4 linked regions of the Homo sapiens genome follow. The protein of the gene in region 1 purifies or fractionates together with the protein of each later gene. This does not show direct contact. Each region holds a gene or a part of one and is shown on either strand. Other genes may lie near its edges. The genes, in order: LPXN, PSTPIP2, ARHGEF6 and EDC3.

Region 1 (4,519 bases):
AACAGCAAAGATTGCTGCCTGTTCCTTCCTTTGGAAGCTTCATCCCAGCAGGGCACCCACCAGATGCCAGCCAGAGCTCTCCTGTATGAGGTGTCAGTTAGCCCCTATTGGGAGGTGTCTCCCAATCAGGAGACACGGGGGCCACAGACCCACTCAAGGAGGCAGTCTGACCCTTAGCAGAGCTCGAACCCTGTGCTGGGAGATCCACTGCTCTCTTCAGAGCTGTCAGGCAGGGATGTTTAAGTCTACTGAAGCTGTGCCCACAGCCACCCCTTCCCCTGGGTGCTCTGTCCCAGGGAGATGGGGGTTTTATCTATAAGCCCCTGACTGGAGCTGCTGCCTTTTTCTTTTCAGAGATGGCCTGCCCAGAAAAGAGGAATCTAGAGAGGCAGTCTAGCCACAGCAGCCTTGCTGAGCTGCGGTTGGCTCCACCCAGTTTGATCTTCTGAGTGGCTTTGTTTACACTGTGAAGGTAAAACCACCTGCTCAAGCCTCAGCAATGGTGGATGCTTCTCCCTCCACCAAATTCTAGTATCCCAGGTCGAGCTCAGACTGCTGTGCTGGCAGTAAGAATTTCAAGCCAGTGGATCTTAGCTTGCTGGGCTCCATGGGGGTGGGACCTACCGAGCCAGGCCACTTGGCTCCCTGGCTTAAGCCCCCTTTCCAGGGGAGTGAACAGTTCTGTCTCGCTGGCATTCCAGGTGCATCTAGGTTATGAAAAACAAAAAACAAAAAAACTTCTAAAGCTAGCTCAGTGTTTGCCCATACAGCCGCCCAGTTTTGTGCTTGAAACCCAGGGCCCTGGTGGCGTAGGCACAAGAGGGAATCTCCAGGTCTGCGGTTTGTGAAGACTATGGGAAAAGCACAGTATCTGGGCCGGAGTGCACTGTTCCTCACGGCACAGTTTCTAATGGCTTCTCTTTGTTAGGAGAGGGAGTTCCCTGACCCCTTGTGCTTTCTGGGTGAGGCAACACCCCACCCTTTTTCGGCTTGCCCTCAATGGGCTGCACCCACTGTCCGATCAGTCTCAATGAGATGAACCGGTTACCTCAGTTGGAAATGCAGAAATCACCTGCCTTCTGCATCGATCTCACTGGAAGCTGCAGACCTGAGCTGTTCCTATTCGGTCATCCTGCCAGCAATCTCCAAATTATTTATTTTATTGCTCATGTCATCAGTTTGATATACAGTTAATTTTCTTCAATTTGATTCAATTTTTTAGGGATTCATGTTTTTCCATTTTAATTTTTTTACTTTTTTTTTTTTTTTTTGAGACAGAGTCTCACTATCTCCCAGGCTGGAGTGCAGTGGTGCGATCTCGGCTCACTGCAAGCTCTGCCTCCCGGGTTTACGCCATTCTCCTGCCTCAGCCTCCCAAGTAGCTGGGACTACAGGCGCTCGCCACCACACCTGGCTAATTTTTTGTATTTTTAGTAGAGACGGGGTTTCACCGTGTTAGCCAGGATGGTCTCGATCTCCTGACCTCGTGATCCACCCGCCTCGGCCTCCCAAAGTGCTGGGATTACAGGTGCAAGCCACCGTGCCCGGCCAATTTTTTCACTTTTTAATTATGTACAACAATAGTTGAAACCATACATATACTCAGGAGTGGAATATAATTAGCAAATATTTTCTTCAGATTGTTATTTGTCTTTGTTTATGGTGATTTTTTGACATGTGTAAGTCATTCAGATATATTTTTATGTAGCTAAATTTATTAATATTTAACTTGCTTTTGGAATTTGGGCTTTATTTATGACAGTTTTTCTGTTTCCAGATTAAAGAGGAATACATCATTAATGACAAGATATGAAATGCAAATGCACACATTAAAAAAACCCTAAGTATCATTAGCCTTTCGGGAAATACAAATCAAAACTACCATGAGATAACATTGTATAGATAGATAACATCCATTTGATTGATTAAAAAGGAAATATATGGATATATCAAGTGATGTAAAGACTGAGGAATAATTGGGATTTTCATACACTGCTGGTAAACAATAAAAATAATATACCCACACAAAAAATAAAAAAAGGAGGAATACATCTATTTTTAATTCAAATATATGGTATGAGTCATTGTGTTTAGATCTTGCATCCATCTGGAAATTATTATTTAGTAGTATTTTATTTTAAAATATCAGATGCTTTTTTTCTTCCCAGATGCTGTTTTAGATATTAGAGATATAATGGTGACAAGATCAACAATATCTAGTTTCTCTCAGAGCTAATGTTCCTGTAAGGGGAGACAGCCCACAAAGATGATTTTAAATAAAGGTAAATGCCATAAAGACGGTGAAAGAAGATGATGTGACAAGGAGGGACTGAAGAGATGCCTCTCTGATAAGATGATATTTGAGTGATTCTTGCATCACATGAAGAGGACAACTATATCAGGCTCTGGGACAGAACTATCCAAGCCAAGGGAATACTTAGTACAAAGGCACTGAGGAGCAATAGCCCCTAACACTTATTAAATGTTTACTATGAACCAGACACAATGCCAAAACACTTCCTCTGCATTATCTCATTTATTTCTTACAACTACCCTTTGAATTAGGTAACAGTAATCATCCTATTTTGAATATGAGGACACTGAGATTGAAAGGGCCTCCTCTCAGTCTCCAGTGTAGCTTTCAGGGCTCAACCTGCAACAGTGAATTCCTGATTTTATCTCTCCAGGCTTTCATGAGAAGGACAAGAAGCCATATTGCCGAAAGGATTTCTTAGCCATGTTCTCACCCAAGTGTGGTGGCTGCAATCGCCCAGTGTTGGAAAACTACCTTTCAGCCATGGACACTGTCTGGCACCCAGAGTGCTTTGTTTGTGGGGTCTGTATAATCACTTTTCTTTCGGACTTAGGGAAAGTCAAGGGTTCTCCTCTCTGAGAGGAAGAGCTGCAGTTAGTGAAAGGGTTCACAGTCCTGAATGAGGAATGGATGTGCGCATCCTAAAGGAGAAACGAGATACAGATCCATTTGCTTGTCTGTTTTGCAAGCGGGAAATCTAGTCTCCATTTGTCAAGAACCTGAGGGAAATTCCTGTAGCTGGCAGGTAACTGTCAGGAATTTCAAGGCTGAAAATTTTACTTTGCTGACATTTTACCTCTTGACATTTGCATTCTTTTTCTCTCTCTTCTCTCTACCCCAGGACTGCTTCACCAGTTTTTCTACTGGCTCCTTCTTTGAACTGGATGGACGTCCATTCTGTGAGCTCCATTACCATCACCGCCGGGGAACGCTCTGCCATGGGTGTGGGCAGCCCATCACTGGCCGTTGTATCAGTGCCATGGGGTACAAGTTCCATCCTGAGCACTTTGTGTGTGCTTTCTGCCTGACACAGTTGTCGAAGGGCATTTTCAGGGAGCAGAATGACAAGACCTATTGTCAACCTTGCTTCAATAAGCTCTTCCCACTGTAATGCCAACTGATCCATAGCCTCTTCAGATTCCTTATAAAATTTAAACCAAGAGAGGAGAGGAAAGGGTAAATTTTCTGTTACTGACCTTCTGCTTAATAGTCTTATAGAAAAAGGAAAGGTGATGAGCAAATAAAGGAACTTCTAGACTTTACATGACTAGGCTGATAATCTTATTTTTTAGGCTTCTATACAGTTAATTCTATAAATTCTCTTTCTCCCTCTCTTCTCCAATCAAGCACTTGGAGTTAGATCTAGGTCCTTCTATCTCGTCCCTCTACAGATGTATTTTCCACTTGCATAATTCATGCCAACACTGGTTTTCTTAGGTTTCTCCATTTTCACCTCTAGTGATGGCCCTACTCATATCTTCTCTAATTTGGTCCTGATACTTGTTTCTTTTCACGTTTTCCCATTTCCCTGTGGCTCACTGTCTTACAATCACTGCTGTGGAATCATGATACCACTTTTAGCTCTTTGCATCTTCCTTCAGTGTATTTTTGTTTTTCAAGAGGAAGTAGATTTTAACTGGACAACTTTGAGTACTGACATCATTGATAAATAAACTGGCTTGTGGTTTCAATAACTCATTGTCATATTTGTTTGGGAGATAAACTTTCTGCTTCCCGTGTTATATACTAGGCACTATGTACAATTAAGATTATATCATACCTCGTTTCCTTCCATCCAATGCACACTTTAAAATTTTTAATCAGAAGAAATTAAAAGGAGGGTCTCCTTTTCACTAATTTTTCTTTTTTTTCTTTTTAGTTTGGTCCCATAACCATTTTATTTTCTAGACTTAGATGATTGAATCATTTTTAAAAATGACAAAGCTTCTTAAAATTGTTTTTATTACTTTGTTTACAGGAGGAGAAACCCTGGCTCTCCATTAGAAACCTTACAAATTCATTTCTTTTTCCTTTTTTTTTTTTTCTGAGATGGAGTTTCGCTCTTGTTGCCCAGGTTGGAGTGGAATGGCGCGATCTCGGCTGACCGCAACCTCCACCTCCTGGGTTCAAGCAATTCTCCTGCCTCAGCCTCCTGAGTAGCTGGAATTACAGGCATGCGCCACCACACCAGGCTAATTTTTCTAT
Region 2 (6,851 bases), on another chromosome or scaffold:
ACTGGAATTTTTTCTCATTGTGGCCTGGCTGTTTCCCTGGATCTTTGGAAACTGTGGTCACTGTCTTATTCTGACAAGATACAATCAAAGTTAACCAAGAGAAATTATACAGCACTGCTTAACCAAAGTGCCACAAAGAAGGTATAAACAGGGAAGGGTGGGAGAGAAACAACACACAGGTATGTACCAATAGCAGGCAAATTCATTGGGGGCCAATCCCAGTTTTATTCATTTATTTTAAAATGATTTTTAGAGACAGGGTCTCACTATGTTGCCCAGCCTCCTTAGTAGCTGGGACTACAGGCACACGCCAGCTCCAAGCCCAGTTTTAAACACTGATTATTCCCTTTTGAAGCAGATTCATCGAAGATTTCTTTAAATAAATATTTTCATGAAGCATTTAAATACATTCATTTATGAAGTGTGTATTGACTCATACTTTTTCAGGAACATGTACAAACACGTTTGACCACAGTCCTCTCACCTTCCTTGGAATGTCCCTCTCTTGGGCCTGTGATAGCTCTTTCCTGGTTGTATCCCTTCATCTCTTCCTCTATTTCTCTGTCCCCTTTCTCCTCCTCCATCAATAGAGGCATGCACTAAGAGTGCTTCTTTGTGGACTTCCGATCTCTTCATTCTTTCTCCTTGAATAACCATCACTCACTTCTTTTACTTGTCACCTCTACTGCTGATAATAATAGCTGGCAACTATAGGTGCTCTCTGTGTGTCAGGCACTGTACTAAACTCTCAAGTTTAATCCTCCCAACGGTCCTAAGGAGTAGACACTGTTATTATCCCCATTTTTATGTATGGAAAAACTGAGGCTTGGGGGCGGAAGCAGGCTGCCCAGGGTCACCTAGCTAGTAAGGGGCAGAACTGGATTCAAGCCCGGGCAGCCCACCTCAGAGGCTTCATGCTGTTCGGTAAGCTCTCAAAACTGGACATCTTCCCAAGGGGCGGGGCCATCTCCACCAGCCCCTCAAACCCTGCATGTCACCCACCAGACATTAGAGAGTACTCACTGACATGTTTGTACTGGCTGTGAAGATATTAAAATACTGCAAACTCTGTGGCCTGGAACCCTGTCTTCACCCTGTCACCCTCTCCGCTAAGACCTCCCCGTATCCAGCATCCCTGGCATGGGGCTGAGGGGTGGAGGCTGGTGGGGAGGGGCTTAGCGCCCGCCTGGCCTTAGCCTTGCCAGTGCTAAAACTGTGGCTAAATACTGAGGATTGTGTTGTTTGGTTGGGTTTGTTTGTTTGTTCGTTTTTGAGACAAACACAAATCACTCTGTCGTCCAGGCTGGAGTGCAGTGATGTGATCATAGCTCACTGCAACCTCAAACTCCTGGCCTCAAGCAATCCTCTTGCCTCAGCCTCCCAAGTAACTATATCTACAGGCATGCACCACCATGCCCAGCTAATTTTTAAGATTTTTTTGTAGAGACAGACAGAGTCTCACTATGTTGCCCAGGGTGGTCTCGAACTCCTGGCCTCAAGCAATCCTCCTACCTCGGCCTCCCAACGTGCTGGGATCACAGGCATGAGCCACTGTGCCTGAACTAAATACTGTTAGTATCACGTCTGCCTCCTTCTCCTTATGTCTCCACGAACCAGTTCCTCTGCTGACTTCCTTATTTCTGGGGCCCACATCTCATTCTCCAGTTTGTATTATACAGAGCCTTTTTCCCACAGTGCCTGCCATGGGATCCCCCAGTCCTCCATTCTACCTGAAAAACTCGCAAGCCTCCCGTGAGAGCCATCTGTGGTGCCCTTGGTTCCTCTGTGAGGCTGCCACCACCCTGCACCCTAGGGTGAGTAGTGCCCCAGAAGGACCTCACAAACTCCAGTGAAGGGACTCACAGGCACAGTCTCAACTGTGTCCCTGAGGTCCCCAGCCAGGTTTCTCTACCCTGCAGCCCACGTGGGGTAGAGGGACCATCTAGGCAGCTGTGAAGCTACCTGGGTGGGTGGTGGGGGGAGGCAAGCAGGAGCCCCAGTAAGGAGTCAGGGCCCCTTGGCAGCTGCGGTCAACTTTGAGGTTTGCAGCCTCCTGCTCCTGTCTTAAAGGGATGAGGACAGCTCCTCTGAATGAGGGGGCATGGACCTTGAGGGGCACCTGGGGAGTGAGAGGACAGAGGGAAGAGGACTAGACAGAGGAGGGGGACAGGCAGACCTGCTCCCTCCAGGCTGGGCTGGCCCTACCGGGCTGGGTGGGGTACCCCCTCCAGCTTATAGGGTCTCCCACACCATCAGCCCCGCTATGGGGCCTGGACGGAAGGGCTGGGGCAATGGCCTGGGGAGGGGGCTCGGGAAACAAGGCTGTAGAACAGGGAAAGCTCCAGCAAAGGGAAGCCCTCTATGCTGTACGTTTCCTGGAAAGGACGATCCCGGGGGGCAGCTGCTGCTGTCAACCCGGTAAAGCTCACAAGCCCCCACACCAGATCCCCCCAGATCCTCTCACGGCTCAGCTCCAGGGACCGGCAGAGACTCTCCCCGGACGGGTCTCGCCTCCCTAAGGGTCTCTGCTTCGCCTGTGAGAGGAGGGGTTGATGTCCTGACTCTAAGGTGTCTCGGCTCTCTGCGTCCTCAGGAGCACGCGCTGCTGGGGGCGCGGGCGGCAGAGGGTGGGCCCTGGAGTCCGAGCCCCCGGGACTCGCGGGCACGCGGTGGGTAGCGGGGGACAGAGAGGGAACAGCAGCCCGGCGTCCGCTCCAAGTCTGCCCCTCGAGCAGTGGGGCTGGGGCCCCGATCCCTTCACGCGCGAGCTCCGCCAAGCCCCCGGGCGCGCGGTCACCGAGTGGCGCCGGAGCTGGGGAGCCCCCCACGCCCGCCGCGTTGGCCTCCCGCCCGGGCCGGGTCCTGAGCCCCGCGATCCGCTGTCGGCCCCACGACTTACCCAAAAGTTTCCCTTGAACAGTGAGCGCGTCATCGCAGCGCGAGTGGGGGCGCGGAGGAGAGCCGGGCCGCAGGTAGCACAGAGCGGGGAGGCCTGACTGCCACTGCCCGCGGCTCCGCAGACTCAACTTCTGCGTTCCACACTCGCGCAGGGAAGCCGCCCCCGGGTCCTAAACCACTCCCGATTGCGACGGCCGCCGTCGGCGCTCTGCGCTCCCTGCGCGAGACCTGGGCGGGACCCTCGGCGCTCACCCGGCCAGGGGCTGCAGCCCGCACCCGGACCCAGGCCCATTTAAAGCCCCACAGCGTCGGGCCACGATCAATATATCAGCCCGAAGCTAGCTGCCTCCTTCTGGAAGTCTTTGGGTATTGGAAATAACTGGTCCTGGCTTGGGTTCCTGCCCACAAGGCCCCCTGGACAGCACGAAATCCAGGCTCTGCGGGGTGATAGACGGGATCTGATCAGATGGTCGCGAGGACCCGGTTTAAGCTACAGAAGGCCTGGGGCCGACAACTCCCGCAGACGCCTTGGCTTCACGGCGGGCCCCACCGGCACCTGCTGCAGATCAGGCCCTGGGGGACGGTTCATTTTTTATTTTACTTTTTGTTGTTGCAGGTGTTTTTAATGAATGGGGTCACGTTTTAGTCTAAAATGTCATGGAGAGGTCATCTCTGCTGTTTCCCCTTGACTCTAGTCACTTGGTGGTGTCCTAACAGGGCTTCCAGGAGCTCAGCCGCTCTCTGACTCCCTTTCCATTCTCAAAAGGCAAGACCCTTCCCTGCCCATTCCACCCCAGCAAGAGGGGCCCAAGATTCCTTCTTCTCCCTCCACTCTTCCACCCTCACAAATAAAACCCCAGGGCAGGTCAGACCCCTCTCTGCATTGTAGTAGATTGGTACAAAAGTAATTGCGGTTTTTGCCATGACTTTTAATAGTAATGCAGGGCTTATGACAAAGTACTGCCTGGTGCGACAGGCCCGAAGCCCAACCTGAGGCCCAGAGGGGTTGAATGGCTTGCCCAAGATCACAGTTTATTTAAGGGATGAAGAGCTCAAGGTTAGAGCTCTGCCCTTCTAAATAGATGCAAAGACAGACATCCTTCCTGGGGCAGATCCATCCTGGGCAGAGGAATAGGTGCTCAAAGTGGGGAGGATAAAGGTCAAGGTTGCCAAGACTGGCACCAGCCCAGCCTGGAGAAGCAAGCACTCACCCCTGGAGCAGGTTCTAGCTACACCCAGACACAGTGAAAGGGCAATTGCTAGAATTATGTGAAGCACCTGGAACAAGTTCTGCTCCATAAAACTGCAGCCAGCCCCACTCAGATGAACTCCCACCAATAAAGTCATCCACAACTGCAAAGATGGAGAGGTGGCCTCCAGCCACCAAGCATCTCCAAGGGATGCATCCATTTACGTACTTGCTCATATCCTTTGAAAGCAGTGAGATTAGAAGGAAGGCAGAGAAGCCTGGCAGAACCATCAAGGGGCAGCAGAGGACGTGGTAGGCACTAGGAAGCTAGGCTTAACTGCAGGGGGTAAGAAATGGCACAAACTGGGGACATAGAAGCGGGAGAGCTGAAGACACCACTAAGGTTTTTCCTGGAAGTTTTAAATATTCTGGAAAAATAGTTTAGATACAATTCTAATTGTCACATTTTAATTTTTAATACATGTATAATTTTAAGTTATTAGAACGTTTCACAAGCTCTCACAGTACATTGTGCTTGATTTTCGCGACTCAGACTCTAAGCTCCCTGAATTTTAACCCTCTTCCGCCATCTGGTGACAAAGTTTTTAATTGCAAATGGTCATCCACGCTGCTGGAAAATATTCTTCATTCCTCAAACAGCTCATCTCTGGGGCAGGTATTGTGAGTAAAAAAACAAACAAAGTGTGTGCTATATCCAAGGGACATATTTAGGATATTTTACTAACTTCTGTGGTTTGAATGTTGCCCCCTCCAAGAATTCTTGTTGAAACTTAATCTGAAATGAGACAGTATTGAGAGAGGTAGGATCTTTAAGAGGTGATTGGGTCACGAGGGCCACTAGTCCCATTCATGGATTAATGGGTTAGTAGATTAATGGGTTATCAGGAGATGAAACTGGTGGCTTTATGCTTTATAAGAAGAGGAAGAGATGGCTGGGCACAGTGGCTCATGCCTGTAATCCCAGCACTTTGGGAGGACAAGGCAGGTGGATCACCTGAGGTCAAGAGTTCAAGACCAGGCAGGCCAACATGATGTAACCCCATCTCTATTAAAAATACAAAATTAGCCGGGTGTGGCGGCACACGCCTGTAGTCCCAGCTACTTGGGAGGGTGAGACAGGAGAATCGCTTGAACCCAGGAGGCATAGGCTGCAGTGAGCCGAGAGTGCTACTGCACTCCAGCCTGGGCGAGACAGAGTGAGACACCATCTCAGAAAAAAAAAAAAAAAGAAGAAGAAGAGGAAGAGAGGCCTGAACTAGCATGATCAACCTCCTTGCCATGTTACACCCCATGCCACAGAGTCCCTACCAGCAAGAAGGCTGGCACAAATGCGGCCCCTCAACCTTGGACTTTTCAGCCTTCATAACTGTGAGAAATAAATTCTTTTCCTTTATAAACTACCCGATGTCAGATACTCTGTTATAAGCAACAGAAAACATACTAAGACACTAACAAAATTAAACAATATTATAGCAATTATGAAATAATGAAATTATTTAATATATTTAAGACATAATACATTTAAGATAATCGCTGTGAATATTTTGGCATACTCTCTTTCAACTATATATTTGCAAGAGTAAGTTCTTACTGTACATAAAATTTTGAGTCTTGCTTTTTTAACTTAGTATTTCATAAGTATTTTCTAAAATCACTCAATGTATTTTTTCTAACAAAAAGTTTGATAGAATACAGGGCTAGCCACTTTATAAGCAGACAATTTTGCACATAAAAATTGAAAATCTCTGTGAAGGGCTGGGCAGGGTGGCTCACATCTGTAATCCCAGCACTTTGGGAGGCTGAGGCAGGCAGATCACTTGAGGTCAGGAGTTCGAGACCAGCCTGGTCAACATGGTGAAACCCCGTCTCTACTAAAAATACAAAAATTAGCCGTGCGGAGGTGGCGCAGCACCTGTAATCCCACCTACTCGGGAGGCTGAGCCAGGAGAATCGCTTGAGCCTGGGAGGTGGAGGTTACAGTGAGCTGAGTTTGCACCACTGCACTCTAGCCTGGGCGACAGAGTGAGACTCCATCTCAAAATAAAATAAAATAAAAATATCTGTGAAGAGAAATTTGGCCATGTGATCAAAATGTAAAATGCCCCTATCTTTTGACCCATTAAGTCCATGTCAAAAAACTTACCTTACAAATATATTCTCACATATGCAAAGTAAAAGATGACACAGTTGTTCATAGCAGTGTGGTTATTTTGGCAAAAGACTTGAAATAATTAATGTCCATCCATGGAGTACTAGCTCAATATATTGTCATATATCGATCCAATGAAATCATATTCAAGCATAAAAAATGAGGAAGCTCTTTGCGTATTGATATGGAACAATCATCAGATATATTAATAAGTGAAAAACAAGGCAAAACAAGCTGTCACTAGAATGAGAAGAAAAAAGAACACACACACACTTTCTTTTTTTTTTTTTTTGAGACAGAGTCTTGCTCTGTTGCCCAGGCTGGAGTGCAGTGGTGCCATCTCGGCTCACTGCAAGCTCCGCCTCCCGGGTTCACGCCATTCTCCTGCCTCAGCCTCCCGAGTAGCTGGGACTACAGGCGCCTGCCACCACGCCCAGCTAATTTTTTGTATTTTTAGTAGAGACGGGGTTTCACTGTGTTAGCCAAGATGGTCTCTATCTCCTGACCTCGTGATCCGCCCACCTGGGCCTCCCAAAGTGCTGGGATTACAGGCATGAGCCACCGGGCCCGGCCCACACACACACTTTCAATGGT
Region 3 (7,033 bases), on another chromosome or scaffold:
GTTGTGATAGCCACTGCACTCTGCCTGGGCAACAGAGTGAGACCCTGTCTAAAAATAATAATTAAAAAAAGAGAGAGAGAGAAGAAAAGACTACTGAAGAGCAATTCGATTTCATTCTCTGGCTATTGTTACAAAAAAAAGGTAAACAGCTAGCAGTATTCAGTGAGTTAAGGGCAATCTTGTTCAGCATCAAAGCGGCCAGACAGCTTCCTGCAGCCCTATCATTATTATCTCTCATGTCTGAGGCATTTAGTCTCAGGTCTGCTTACAGGGCTTAAGGCTAAAAAAAGGAAGTTAGCACATGGCCTCTCTTATTATTGGATTCTGCCATGGTAAGTTTTAGAGTGGTGAGAAGGACTATGTACTATATTACATGGGCTAGAATTAGTAGACATAAAGGGATACAGTTAGGGTGGACCAGTTGTCTGAGCTTTGAATTCCTTTGCTTTTTTTATTTTTCTGCTGCCTTAATGTAATCTAAATACAATTTGTTTCAAAATATCTAATCACAGATTTTTCCCAGTTCTGTTCTACTCTTATTTTTGGCATACACATACAAGTATAAACAGCTTCTGTTAACCAATTAAAACTACACAATTTTCAGTAAGAATACCAAGAAAGTACAAGAGTCACAATCAAAAAGCCTTTTAAAAACTTCACTTACCACTGGATTTAATTTCACGGACATAATTACTGGGGAACCAGCCTGTTCTCCCATTTAATGTGCCTTCCCACCAGCCTCCTTCTTCAACTCGTGTGACGTAAATGATGTCCCCCTTACAAACTGACAGTTCATCCTCATTAGTCTGCTTAAAGTTGAATCTTGCTTTTACTATCAACTGATGACTTCCATTTTCCGTCATCTCCTAGAGAAACAAAAGCCACACCAGATTAAGCACTCATCTAAATAAGGCAGGGGTAGAAATGATATGGATATAGGCAAATAAAGTGGAGGAAGCAAAGACAAAACCCCAGATCCATCTCAGTCCTGAGTTTTTAACTTAGGAATCCATGAATGGGTCTCAGAGGGATTAATAAATCCCTCAAAACAGTATGTAAACTTTGGCATTTGTGAGAATCTGTATTTTGAAGTGGGTCATAGCTTTCATTTTTCTCTCCACACCCCTCCCCATTATCTAAAGATTATCTATTTAACTAAGCCAGATAACAAAGTAGAGTGATAAGCTATTCCACCCTGGATAAGCTATTCCACCCTGCCTCTACTCAACACACAAACAGTCCACATAATTATATAACCAAGATGTACTAACCTACCCTCCATAAAATCTGCCTCCCATCTCCTAATTACTAAGGATATCTTAATTTGGCTAAGACTTATTTATATGCAAAGATCAAATAACCCATAGTTGCCTAAGTCAGGAATTCTTTTTTCCATTTTTTTATTTTTATAGATTTAGGGGGTACAACTGCAGTTTTATTACATGGATATATTAAGTCAGGAATTCTTAATCTGTCATGTATAAACTGGACTTCCTTTTTGAGGGTCACAGACCCTTTAGAGAATCTGATGAGCACAACATATTTTTGTCTAAATAAGTTCATACACATGGGCTTTTGTATACAATTTGAGAGGGTACCAGGGGTGTAGAGACATAGTGTTCATCAGCCTTTCAAAGGGATCTGTGATCCAAAAAAGTTAAGAACCACATGCTCAAGTGCTTTGGAAGTAATAGGTCATAATGTCTTACTGCAAGTGGGTGGCTTTTGACAGGAAATAAAGGTTTCACCCAAAGAGCAGAAGATGAGGCATTTCCTCCCAAATAAAAGCTCCCAATAAGAGCAAGTGAAAAGGCAACTGGGAGATCCTAATATAGAAGCTCATCATAGACTGAAATTTAAAATCAAGCCTTCCTCATTAGGAATGGAAAGAGAAAAATAAAAATGGCAATAATAATGAGGATACTAATCAATATTTATTGATTGCCTACTATGTGTCAGGCACTATTTAGTTCTAATAAAACAAGGGATAGGGAAATTAACAGCAAACTGCCATCAGAAAGTAGCCATAATGACTTCCATTTGCATAGCATTCTCAGTTAAGTGACTTGCCTAATTCTCGTAAGGGACAGAGCTGGAGCTTCAATCCGGATTTTTGCCCCACCACATGCCTTTGATTTGCTCCTTCGGGCCAGCCTGAATTGGTGCTCGGTTTATAATTAGTTTTCTCAGTGATGCCCAAAACAACCCGGATGGCTGTCTCACCACATATGGAGATGCAACTAGGATATCAATCTAATTTTATGGATTTTAAAACAGACGGAGAATTGGGGACTATACTTACCACTGTCTTTGACTGCCTTTGCAGCCCTGAAACTGTGCTAGAAACTGCTCCCTGTGGGTTTGTCTGAGAAGTATTAGCAGCACTAAGAGAAGAGGAACGTCCACATGGTCTTTCTGATAGCTGATCTGTGAAAAGAGGAAAAGGCATGTTAAAGGAACCACTCAGATCAGAAAAACATCTACCGCATAACATTATCTTTCTCAGGATACTATCAGAGGCATCCTGGCTGTAATTCTAACTGTTATCATTATGAACATGCCAAGTGTATTTCAATCCCCCTTCCCTTTTTGGTGGCCAACTTCCTGTTCTTAACCTTACTGGCCATCGTGCTCCAGTAGAATGAAAAACAGCGACAGAACCACATTTTCTCTTAACCATTTCCCTACAACTCTTCCCTCCTGAACCAGTTGCAACAGTATGCCCTGTTATCCAAGGCAGAACTATATTGGGTACCAAACAGCTGTTTGTGGCTCTTATTACTTTGAAATATTTCAAATTTCTCTCTTTGTTTTTTGGCCCATAACTCAGTGGCTCATTTCTTACTCACACGTAACAATATGTGTGGCATATATGATGTAAAATCTCCCTGATGTGTGTGGGGCAGGGTGGAGAATGAGAGTGAAAGAGAAGATGTGTTTGGGAAAGATGTAATCTTGATACTAGAATAATTTTTTTAACAATCAGATTCAAGAGTCTTCTCTTCCTTGAAACCTTGTGAAATTCGACCAGGCCAGAGCTGAGCTGGATGTTTTCAGTTTGTTGAGAGTATACAAAAGAGAGGAGCTGGCTTCTTGACAAATTTCAATAAGGGTTCTTTTCCTCTCCATTTATTTTTAAAAGATATAAACTGCAAAAGTCTAAAGCCCAAACATTCCCTAGGCGACAAGCTCAGTATCCAAGTAATTTCCTTGATGCTGTGGGTTTTAACTTTCACCTCCTTGTATTTTATAAATATCTGTGGCAAGGGAAGAGACTGTAAAACTTGCTAGGAGAGTTTGGCAAAGGAACGTATAATTTGTGTGGCATAATGTTAGAATTACACGATCCTCCCTGACTAGAACTGGATAGTTGTCATGTGTGTTAAATATAGTTACTTGAATTAGCTGTACTTTCAGCTATACGCCTTGCAATAGCTCAAAAGCATTTTTTTTTCCAAATAGCAAAAGAACAACTTTGGAGAAGTATTTTTACTTGTATTGCTATTATATACAGCTCTTTTGACAAAAACTATAATTACTCGATAGCTTCCTAGATGCTCTAACCTATTTGGCACTTGATTATATTGTCTGCTCTTGTCCTCTAATTGTTTCACGTGGGTAAGTTGAGTCTCCTTAAATAGACAGTAATTTTCTCAAAGGCAGGGACCATAGCTTTGACATTTTTTGTAGCACCTGGCGATGCTGGGCACACAGCCTCTTGACTCTACAACAGTTTGAGCAGCAAGCCTCGTGCTTGGGCATAAGGGCTCTGTAGTCATTCAGATGTGGGTCTGAATCCCAACTCAGCGACTAACTTTCTAGTTGGGCAACTGTTGGCCTGACTTTCCTTATCTGTAATATGGACCTAATAATAATAATACCTACCCCCAGTGTTGTTTCAAGGATTGGATGAGATCACCTGTGGCTCTTATGACAGCCTAGATCCAGGGCAAGAGCTCAAAGCATTTTAAGTATGATTATTACTATTCAGCTGTTGGTAAAATATACCAGGGAAGGAGTGAAGCTACATTCTAAGTGTATCATCATTTTCTTCACATTTACTAGCATTTATATTTAATACCTCTAGTGTGGTAGGTGTTAAACATTTAAATAAAAGATATTATTTTCACTCCCTATGACCCCAAGATTTCATTTTTGGTGCAAGGCTACTGAGGGGTTCCTTTACATGGACAAAGGCATACATAAAACAATGAGAAAAATATGTCTCTAGTGGGGAAAGGGAAGTGACGGCTGTATTTTGTAAACTCTATGAAAAAGGGAACTGGTCTTTCCTTTTTCTTCTCTGTTTTGTTATACTCAGTTGGTGATTCAGAGCTTTGAATGGAATAGTTTCTTAGTTCTTATCATTATATTAAGGGCATTAGAATAACATCTATGATAGGTATATTTTAAATCCTAAGCCATGAAAAATTCAAGCATTTGACATTTGTTGGGGTGTATTTGGGGGAGCAAGGGGAAAATTTGCATCACGAGAACAATCCTGGCCAGAGTTGGCTCCTAGGGTAATCACAAACACATGGATTCAAAAATGTCACCCAGAACATATAAATCACAAGCCCGGCTTACCTTCTGTTGCTTTGTTGACAGCTAAAAGAGTACTCAGTACCTTGGAGAAATTGACCCCTGAATAAAGGTCATCAGGATCAAATATCTATGAGAAAGGAAAATTGAAACCGTAAGACACTACAAGTATTCAACTCAACAAACAAAACTATCAAAAGGCCACTTCCTCCAGCTCTCCGGAAAAAAAAAAAAAAAAAAAAAGTGTAGAAGCCAAGACACAAACCTCCATATACCTTTGGGAGAAATGAGAGCAGCAGTTGAGCCGCCTAATGACATGTGGCAGGCCATCAGTGAGTCAGAGCAAAGCAGTAATGGGAAATGAGAGCCAAGCTGAGAAGGCAGCGCCCACCAGGAAATAAACAGTGCATACTCAGACCCACTCTTCTGGCCTGAATGTATCAATAGTTTCAGCCCAGTTACAGGAAGCTCATATGCATGGGTTACAATCAATGCCCATCACCTACATAATGTCCTCGACAGTCCATAAATAAGGAGGTGGAGCCTTTTTGACATGGTTGCATCTGTACAGTTTATTAGCTGTGCCTAGTTGAGTCACTGTCAAAAGTGCCTTTTTCTCTGCTCTCCTTCCTCCCAACTGCCACCCGCTGCATCCCAACTGCCTAGGATCCCAATTCCATGTTGCCCAAACTTTCTGCCCAGGTCTGCCTTTTGCTCCCAGCTTCAGTTCTGTTTCTGCTGTTTGACCTTGCCCCTCTCAGCTCATCATGAATTCAAGTATTTGCCTGCCTGGGCCTATGGGCTCTTCCTGGCTTTAGATGACTTTCCCAAATATGACCTCTGGCCTGTCTAATACTACTCAACTCTTGGCAAAAAACACATTAAGGAAATACATTTCACTTTACCAGTCAACTGTCAATCTGATATGCTATTGTCCCCAGTGAAGATACCAATCAGATGTTGTTTTCAATACAATTTACCTGTTACCTTTGAAATGTAGTCAGTGTGTTAAAATATATTGAGTCTCAAATATGTATATTTGAAATTAGAAGTGTTCTCATGCACAGGTACAATCTATTAATTTGCCAGCCAACAATGTAAGTATGCATATCTGAAGGTAACCAGATGCCCACCTTCTGGATGGAAATGCCCCTTCTAAAAACATTTTGTTCCAGGATGTCTAGAAGTCTCTTAAAGAAAACAGATTGCATCATTTTTTCCCCAAATGTGGTGATGGAAATAAAATGTACCTTTTCATATGGGACATGATTGGTAATGGGCATAGGATTTTAAAGGGTCTGTCTTCCCATTAGGTAGAGCCATTTGTTCCATTTTTAAGCTGCATATTTTCTGGGAACCATATCAAGACAAATTTCTATCTTTTTTGTACATGTTCTTGAAAACCTATAATCTGTTTTTAGAGTGAAAATATATAATATCAATTTTTCACGTTTTGGGGGGTCAATAAAGATACATGCAAATGCAAACCTACACAAGTCTGCCTATTCTAGGATTCACTGCTTTATTCATTTAATCAATGAATATTTTGCATTCAAAGTTAAAATGACCAAAAAGCCCAGATGCATCTAAAAATGAGACATTAATATATTTCTGGTAAAAGAGTAATGCTAATATTACTAAAGAGTTAAACAACAACACATTCCAAATATATTTCTGAATGCTACAATATAAAATTCAAACTTTTCCAGAAATACATTGACAAGAGTTTTGTTTTAGTTTGTCAAAGCCTGGGTGAACAAGAGGCAATAGACTAGAGAGAGTGTCTAGTATCTCCGGGGATTTCAGACTTATTGAGTCTCCCTTAGAACTGATCAACTGGGAAAATGTTAATGACATGTATGCCAAAATAGTAGCAAAGCAAAAAAAATCACTTGTTTTTAGCCCATCAGTCCTAATGGGAGTGTGCATGTGTGTGTGCATGTGGATACATGTTTTGGGTGGGTGTGGTAGAGATGAGTAGATCTAAAATAATAAGCAGAAGTTAAATATTAGCAGAATAAGGCATGAGAGCAAAAGTTGTGATAAAAAACCTCTCCCTCTGGTTTTAGTTGTTCCTTATCCAGGGTTATTAAATGCCTATACATGGCAACACTGGTATTATTCACTTGTACAAGTACTTGACTGATTTTGAAAATAAATAAACTAATCAGAAAATGAAATGTGCATCAAGAAGAGTCATTGCATCTGCTTGAGGGAAGTTTCCTGAACTGTACTCGGTTCTCTTTTGAGAAAACCCCAATATACTCAAGTTTATCCATGGACACTGTTCTTGCTGCAAGCCTATTCTGAGGCACTAGAAACTACAGAGGAAGGAGTTGGAAGAAGCCTCTGGGAACTGCTAGAGAAAGCAACGCCTAAGCATTATTATTTCAGAGTAGCTGGAGAATCAGATACAACCACAAACACCCTTCACCACACTATACCTTCTAAGTCCTAAATTGAATGATATTGAAAATTCCACCCTAGATCT
Region 4 (7,850 bases), on another chromosome or scaffold:
ACCCAGCCTATACCTGAAAGCCTGAAATGACAAGGAGAAAAATAATCATTCATGCCAAAGCAACACCACCATATCTTCAAACTTTTGACTTCTGCCCATAAATTTACTCTTAGCACATCTAGATCTAAACCTAATATTCCAGGTACAAGCCTACCAGTGATGCAACCTTTCTCATTCTAGATTTTGCATTTTCCTGATACAATATACTAATGCAGGTCACATCGGTTCTTCTCACAGCCTTCTTAACCACACCACTGATTGGTGATTAAAACATCACATCTTTTTATTATAGAACTCCTGTGAGGTCACATCTCCACCCTCCCCTAATAGGTATAGTTGATTTTGTTTGGACCCAAGCGCAATTTCTCACATTTATACATGCTTCCTTCATTTCATTAAACAGCACTGAGCAAATTATATTGAGATCTTTTCCCATTCTGGCAATCACCAACCAAATGACTCTTTCTTTACTTCACAAAGGCACCAAATCCAATAAGCAAACCTTCTAGATAAGGTCTCAAATACATGAAGTATATAAAGAAAGTGATGAAACCCCAGTTTAGATCACCGGAATTCCAGCTGTAAGTAGTGTCCACAAATCAAACCTCTCCATACATAGATTTTCAAACTCATGACTCCATCTAACTACCACAATCTGGCAAATTCCTCCATCTCGCCCACTCAGTTATAGTAAGACTCAGTAAGACCAGGCGCGGTGGCTCACACCTGTAATCCCAGCACTTTGGGAGGCTGAGGTGAGTGGATCACCTGAGGTCGGGAGTTCGAGACCAGCCCGGCCAACATGGTGAAACCCCATCTCTACTGAAAATACAAAAATTAGCCAGGCGTGGTGGTGCATGCTTGTAGTCCCAGGTACTTGGGAGGCTGAGGCAGGAGAATCGCTTGAACCAGGAGGCAGAGGTTACAGTGAGCAGAAATTGCACCACTGCACTCCGTCCAACCTGGGCAATGGAGTGAGACTCCATCTCAAAAAAAAAAACAAAAACTTCATAAATGCCTTGCTAAAATTCTGACACACTATCATTATGGTCACTACACTCCTTTGAGCCACAATTTGGATGTCCTGTCCTGTTGTTCTGGCTGAATTTAGGAGAACTCTAGTAAGCCCTTCTCTGGATAAGAAAAGAAAAATGATACATCTTCCATTTTGTATTAATTACAGAATCTCACAAATGGCAAGGATTTTAAACATTTTCTAATGTTGTTTTTCTTAGACAGAGTCTTGCTATGTTGCCCAGGCTGGCCTTAAGCAATCCTCCCACCACTGCACTCGGCCCTAGTCTAATATTTTTCTTTTCTTTTCTTTTTTTGAGAAGTTTAGTTCTTGTTGCCCAGGCTGGAGTGCAGTAGCATATCTTGGCTCACTGCAACCTCTCCCTCCCAGGTTCAAGCGTTTCTCCTGCCTCAGCCTCCCAAATAGCTGGGATTATAGGCACCCACCACCACCCAGCTAAGTTTTGTATTTTTAGTACATACGGGGTTTCACCACGTTGCCCAGACTGGTCTCCAACTCCTGACCTCAGGTGATCCACCCGCCTCAGCATCCCAAAGTGCTGGGATTACTGGCGTGAGCCACAGTGCCCGGCCTTAATATTTTTCAAACTATACGTCATGACCTATTAGGGGTCAGACTCAATTTAGTGAGTTGCAACCAATATTTTTTTAGAGTGCATCTTCTGTAGAAAGGGTAAGTAAACTTTTCATTGGTGTGTGTGTGTGTGTACACACTGAGTGTGCAGGGGCACAATAAGTCATGATGTATAATATATCTAACTGTGGGTCACAGGTAAAAAATTTTGAGACACTTTTCTAGCCCCACAGCCCTATGCCAAGGAGGCTCTACCAAGAAATTGGTAATAAACAAAATGTCATGTTTTTACATCATACAGAGAAACTAGCTAAGAGGATTTTGTGCTCAGTACACGTAATCTGCCATTCATTAAAAAAAAAAAAAAAGATTAGGATCCATCTGGGTGTCCAGTTGAAATACTAAACTGCTTGGAGACAGCCATTTCTGTTTTGGTGGGGTGAAGACCTGTATTTGAGACAGCAGACTGAAATCGGTTTGGTCTGTGGCGAAGGAAGAGAAGAAAAACCATTCTGGGTCGCGAGTTCCTCACCTGTAACCACAGGAGAAGACTGTTGGCTTGGTCAGTTGATTTTCAACTAATCTCCCAATTGAAGAGTTAGGCGAAGCAATTGCTATTGGGAGATTAACTGAAAATTAACTGACCAAGCCAACAAGGACTATGCCTCCCACAAACCAAAACACTTTAACCACTCAGCAAGTCAAGTATTGATACATACAATCAATATCACACAAAGTGTACTGAAAAGAACCACAGACTTGCATCAAAGGCAGAAATGAATCCAGGGATAACTTCCTGGGATTCGAAGATGTGACCTGGTAGGTATAAATTTCTCAGGCATCCTCTTTTTCTACCCTCCAGTTCATCTCCGTCCTCAAGCTATCAGTCATGGATGTGGCACTGGCGTTCTTCTCTGCCACCGTATCTCATTATGCAAAGGGAAACTGAGGCACGAAGAACAGAGTGAGTGAGCCAAAGAACTGCAGCAGCCACCAACAAGGCTGGACTAAGGGCCCAAGCAGCTAATGCCTCACTCCCCACACAATCCCCATACTATTTAGAATCCTGCAGTCCTCAGCCTTCCACCTCAAACCAAACTCCTGGGGCCGCCCGTAGTACGTGGTCCCCTGCTCATCCGATGAAGCCCCCAGCTCTTGCCTGCCTGCCTGCCTCTATAAAGGTCTACGAGGCCTGGAACTCTGAAGCCTAAAGCAACCCCGGCAGCCCCCTCCCACGACCGTCCACAAACCAGTAGCCTCCCTTCGCTCCCACCTCCGCGCCGACGGGCCTGGAGCTCCTCCGCACACCACACCAAGCCGACCACTCAACACCAGAGGACCCACAGAAGAATTCTCTCCACGCCCACCCCCACAGCATCGGCCTTCACCACCGCCGCCGCTGCCGGAAGCGCCCCCACGTCTCCACGCCACCACCGTGAGGTCACTTCCGGCGCGACACCTTGGAATCCAGGGCCGTCAATTGAGGGGCGTGGCACCCGGGAAATTTAAGAGGTTGGAAGAACGTCCCTTCGGCCTTACAGAATTGCGCTTGGGTAGTCATTTTGCCCTCCACGCTTACTTATGTCCTGTGGCGTCTTGGCTGGAATCGGGGCTCTACCCACGACTCCCCAGCCTCGATGCCTGGGCCCCCCTCTTGCAGGCTCGATGAAAAGCACCCGCTTCCCCTCCTGTTACCCCAGCGCCAATCGCAGAGCTGGAGCGGAGGACTTTCAGGGAGGCCTGGTGACGTGACAGCCCCTCCGTGCTAAACTGCAGCTGTGGGACTTAATAAGTGCGACAACCCCCTGATGGATTAAAGAAAACAAGATATTCCTGCCGTGGTCGATCTTCAAAGCGTATCAGCTTCAGCCCTTTTGGGGGTTAAAATCAGCCAGTCCGTGCTTGACTGCTCTCCCTTCCCCCATACTCAGTACACAGGAAAGTGCCGCTCTTCTACCCCTGGCATTTTAGAGTCTTGATTTGTGGGGAGACGGGAAAGCATGCGTTTAGGGCCAAGACCGTGTAATGAGGAATATTGCACAGCCTTGAAGCCTGACACCTGGTTTGGGAACCACTACTTGGGCGAATAGCATAGAGTAGGGTAGCAGTTCCAAACCTAGCTCTACAAAATCAGTTGAAGAACTTTGTAAAATCTACACTTTCTAGGGGACTGCTTCACCCTTCCCCCTCCATCACCAGAGATTCCCTAGGTCAGAAGGGGTCCTTGTCTTTTAAAATTACTGTTATTAATGAACACTTATAGAGCAGTTTTTGGTTCAGGGCAAAACTGAACAGAAAGTACAGAGTTCCCATATATCCCCTGTACACACAGGCACATACACAACTTGTCCCCTCATGGACATCTTGTGCTACAGTGGTACATTTGGTAACAATTGATTACCCAACTTTGACACATCATTATCACCCAGAGTCCATAGTTTACATTAGAGTTTACTCTCGGTGTTGCACATTCTGTGGGTTTTGACATATATGTAATGACATGTATCCACCATTATGGTATCATACACGATAGTTTCACTGCCCTGAAAATCCTCTGTCCTCTGCCTATTTATCCTTCTCAGTCCCCTAACCACTGGCAACCACTGCTCCTTTTACTGTCTCCATAGTTTTGCCTTTTCCAGAATCCCATATAGTTGGAATCATACAGTATGCAGCCTTTTCACATCGGATTCTTTCACTTATGCACTTAAAGTTCTTCCATGTCTTTTCATGGCTTGATAGCTCATTTCTTTTTTGTGCTGAATAATAATATTCCATCGTCTGGATGTGCTGCGGTTTATCCATTCACCTACTGAAAGACATCTTGGTGGCCTCCAAGTTTGGGTAATTATGAATAAAGCCGCTATACATCATGTGCAGATTTTTGTGTAGACATGAGTTTTCAATTCATCTGGGTAAATACCAAGGAGTGCAACTGCTGGATTGGATGGTATATTTAGTTTTGGGAGAAACTACCAAACTGCCTTTCAAAGTGGCTGCATCATTTTGCATTCCCACAGCAGTGAATGAGGGTTTCTGTTGCTCCACATCCTTGTCAGCGTTTTGTGGTGTCAGTATTTTGCCGTTCAAGTAAGTGTGTAGTAGTATCTTATTGTTTTAATATGCAATTCCCTAATGACATATGATATTGAACATCTTTTCATATACTTACTTGCCATGTGTATATCTTCTTTGATGAAGTGTTCATTCAGGTATTTTGCCCATTTTTACATTGTGTTATTTTCTTGTTGTGATTTAAGAGTTCTGGGTATATTGTAGATAACAGTCCTCTATCAGATACGTCTTTTATAATATTTTCTCCTAGTCTGTGGCTTGTCTTCTCATTCTTCTTTTGAAGAGCAGAAGTTTTAAATTTTAATGAAGTCCAGCTTATCAATTATATTTTTCACAGATTATGCTATTGGTATTGCCCTAAAGTCATTGCCATTCCCAAGATCAGTTAGGTTTTCTCCTGTGTTGTCTTCCAGGAGTTTTATAGTGTTCCATTTTACATTTAGGTCTACAATCCATTCTGAGTTAATTTTTATGAAGGGTGCAAGGTCTTTGCCTAGATAATTTTTTTTTTTTTTTTGAGACGGAGTCTCACTCTGTTGCCCAGGCTGGAGTGCAGTGGCACGATCTCAGCTCACTGCAATGTCTGCCTCCTGGGTTCAAGTGATTCTCCTGTCTCAGCCTCCCAAGTAGCTGGGATTACAGGCACCCGCCACCACACCTGGCTAGTTTTTGTATTTTTAGTAGAGGCAAGGTTTCACCATGTTGGCCAGGCTGGTCTCGAACTCCTGATCTCAATTGATCTGCCCACCTCGGCCTCTCAAAGTGCTGAGATTACAGGCGTGAGCCACCGTACCCGGCCTGATACATTTTTATGTGTGTGAAAATTCAGTTGTTCCAACATAATTTGTTGAAAAACCTATCTTTGCTCCATTATATTGCTTTAACTCCTCTGTCAAAGATCAGTTGACTACGTTTATGTGGGTCTACTTCTGGATTGTTTATTCTTTCACCAATACCACATTGTCATTATTACTGTAGTTTATAGTAAGTCTTGAAGTTGGGTAGTATCAGTCCTCCAACTTTGTTCTCCTTTAATAGTGAGCTGGCTCTTCTAGGTCTTTTGTATCTCCATATCAATTTTACAATCAGTTTGTCGACATCCACAAAAATAATATGCTGATACTTGGATTGGGATTGCATCGAATCTATAGATCAGGTTTGGAAGAACAGACATTTTGACTATATTTTCTTTCTATCTGTGAACATGAAATATTTCTCAATTTATGTAATTCTTTTATATCTTTGATCAGAGTTTTGTAGTTTTACTCATATAGCTCTTGTATATGTTTTGCTGTATAGATTTATAACCTGATGACTTTTTTTTTTTTTGAGACAAAGTTTCACTCTTGTTGCCCAGGCTGGAGTGCAGTGGCACGATCTCAGCTCACCGCAACCTCTGCCTCCTGGGTTCAAGTGATTCTCCTGCCTCAGCCTCCCGAGTACCTGGGATTACAGGTATGCACCACCACGCCCAGCTAATTTTGTATTTTTAGTAGAGATGGGGCTTCTCCATGTTGGTCAGGCTGGTCTTGAACTCCCGACCTCAGGTGACCTGCCCGCCTCAGCCCCCCAAAGTGCTGGGATTACAAGCGTGAGCCACCCAGCCTACCTTTTGTTTCTCTAAATCTGCTCTTTCTGAAGTTAGTATACCTACTCCTGCTTTCTTTTGATTAGTGTTATCAATGATATATCCTTCTCCACCACTTTACTTTTAATCTATGTATGTCTTTATATTTAAAATGTGTTTCTTGTAGACAACATATTGTTGGGTCTTGTTTTTCATCCATACTGAGAACCTCTGTCTTTTAATTGGTGTATTTAGATGACTGATGCTTAATTAATGATATAGTTGAATTAATGTCTACTATATTTGTTACTGTTTTTTTTTTCATTTTTTGTTGTTGTTGTTTGTTTTTTGAGACACCGTCTCGCTCTGTTACCCAGGCTAGAGTGCAGTGGCATGATCTCAGCTCACCACAACCTCCATCTCCTGAGTTCAAGCGATTCTCCTGCCTCAGCCTCCCGAGTAGCTGAGATTACATGCACATGCCACCACAACTGGCTAATTTTTGTATTTTTAGTAGAAATAGGGTTTCACCATATTGGCCAGGGTGGTCTTGAACTCCTGACATCAAGTGATCCACCAGTCTTGGCCTCCCAAAGTGCTAGGATTATAGGTGTGAGCCACCACACCAGGCCCTTTTTTTGTGTGTGTGTGAGTTGGAGTTTCACCCTGTCACCCAGGCTAGGGTACAGTGGTATGATTGTGGCTCACTGCAGCCTTAAATCCTGGGCTCAAGCAATCCTCCCACTTCCCAAGTGGTGGTACTATAGGTGCCCACCATCACACCTGGCTAAGCTTTTTTTTTTTTTTTTTGAGATGGAGTCTCGCTCTGTCACCCAGGCTGGAGTGCAGTGGTGCCATCTCTACGAAGTGAAACCCCGTCTCAATGCAAGCTCCGCCTCCCGGGTTCATGCCATTCTACTGCCTCAGCCTCCCGAGTAGCTGGAACTACAGGTGCCCGCCACCATGCCTGGCTAATTTTTTGTATTTTTAGTAGAGATGGGGTTTCACCGTGTTAGCCAGGATGGTCTCGATCGCCTGACCTCGTGATCTGCCCACCTCAGCCTCCCAAAGTGCTGGGATTACAGGCGTGAGCCACTGCGCCCAGCCTGCTAAGCTTTTTTATTTGTTTGTTTGTTTTGTAGAGACAGAGTCTCACTATGTTGCCCAGGCTGCTTTTCAATTCTTGGTGTTAAGTGATCCTCCTGCCTCAGCCTCCAAAAGTATTGAAATTGCGGTGTGAGCCATGGCACCTGGCCTTGTTACTATTTTCTGTTTGTTACCCTTATTTTTTATCTGTATTTGTCTTCTACACATTTTCTGCCTTTGGGGTGTGTGTGTGTGTGTGTGTGTGTGTGTGTGTGTGTGTGTGTTTATGTGTGTTTGAGATGGAGTCTTGCTCTTGTTCCCCAGGCTGGAGTGCAGTGGTGCCATCTCAGCTCACTGCAACCTCTGCCTCCCAGGTTCAAGCGATTCTCCTGCCTCAGCCTCCCAAGCAGCCGGGACTACAGGCATGTGCCACCACACCTGGCTAATTTTTGTATTTTTAGTAGAGATGGGGTTTTGCCATGTTGGCCAGGCTGATCTCAAACTCCTGACCTC

The links.
Region 2: the proteins of LPXN (region 1) and PSTPIP2 purify together in Homo sapiens (co-immunoprecipitation; 3 studies listed by BioGRID and IntAct, with this or other methods). This does not show direct contact.
Region 3: the proteins of LPXN (region 1) and ARHGEF6 purify together in Homo sapiens (co-immunoprecipitation; 3 studies listed by BioGRID and IntAct, with this or other methods). This does not show direct contact.
Region 4: the proteins of LPXN (region 1) and EDC3 purify together in Homo sapiens (co-immunoprecipitation; 3 studies listed by BioGRID and IntAct, with this or other methods). This does not show direct contact.

What each region holds. Positions count from the first base shown.
Region 1 is NC_000011.10:58,526,360-58,530,878, reverse strand, and holds the end of LPXN (leupaxin), read left to right. Parts: intron 1-354; coding exon of another isoform or gene 355-449; exon of another isoform or gene 450-2,306; intron 2,307-2,687; coding exon 2,688-2,836; intron 2,837-3,155; coding exon 3,156-3,425; 3' UTR 3,426-4,008; downstream 4,009-4,519. UniProt on the Homo sapiens protein: Transcriptional coactivator for androgen receptor (AR) and serum response factor (SRF). Contributes to the regulation of cell adhesion, spreading and cell migration and acts as a negative regulator in integrin-mediated cell adhesion events.
Region 2 is NC_000018.10:46,069,257-46,076,107, forward strand, and holds the start of PSTPIP2 (proline-serine-threonine phosphatase-interacting protein 2), read right to left. Parts: upstream 3,005-6,851; 5' UTR 2,933-3,004; coding exon 2,900-2,932; intron 1-2,899. UniProt on the Homo sapiens protein: Binds to F-actin. May be involved in regulation of the actin cytoskeleton.
Region 3 is NC_000023.11:136,742,921-136,749,953, forward strand, and holds part of ARHGEF6 (rho guanine nucleotide exchange factor 6), read right to left. Parts: intron 4,673-7,033; coding exon 4,588-4,672; intron 2,428-4,587; coding exon 2,303-2,427; intron 867-2,302; coding exon 665-866; intron 1-664. UniProt on the Homo sapiens protein: Acts as a RAC1 guanine nucleotide exchange factor (GEF).
Region 4 is NC_000015.10:74,692,998-74,700,847, forward strand, and holds the start of EDC3 (enhancer of mRNA-decapping protein 3), read right to left. Parts: upstream 3,028-7,850; 5' UTR 2,883-3,027; intron 2,819-2,882; exon of another isoform or gene 2,369-2,818; intron 22-2,368; exon of another isoform or gene 1-21. UniProt on the Homo sapiens protein: Binds single-stranded RNA. Involved in the process of mRNA degradation and in the positive regulation of mRNA decapping. May play a role in spermiogenesis and oogenesis.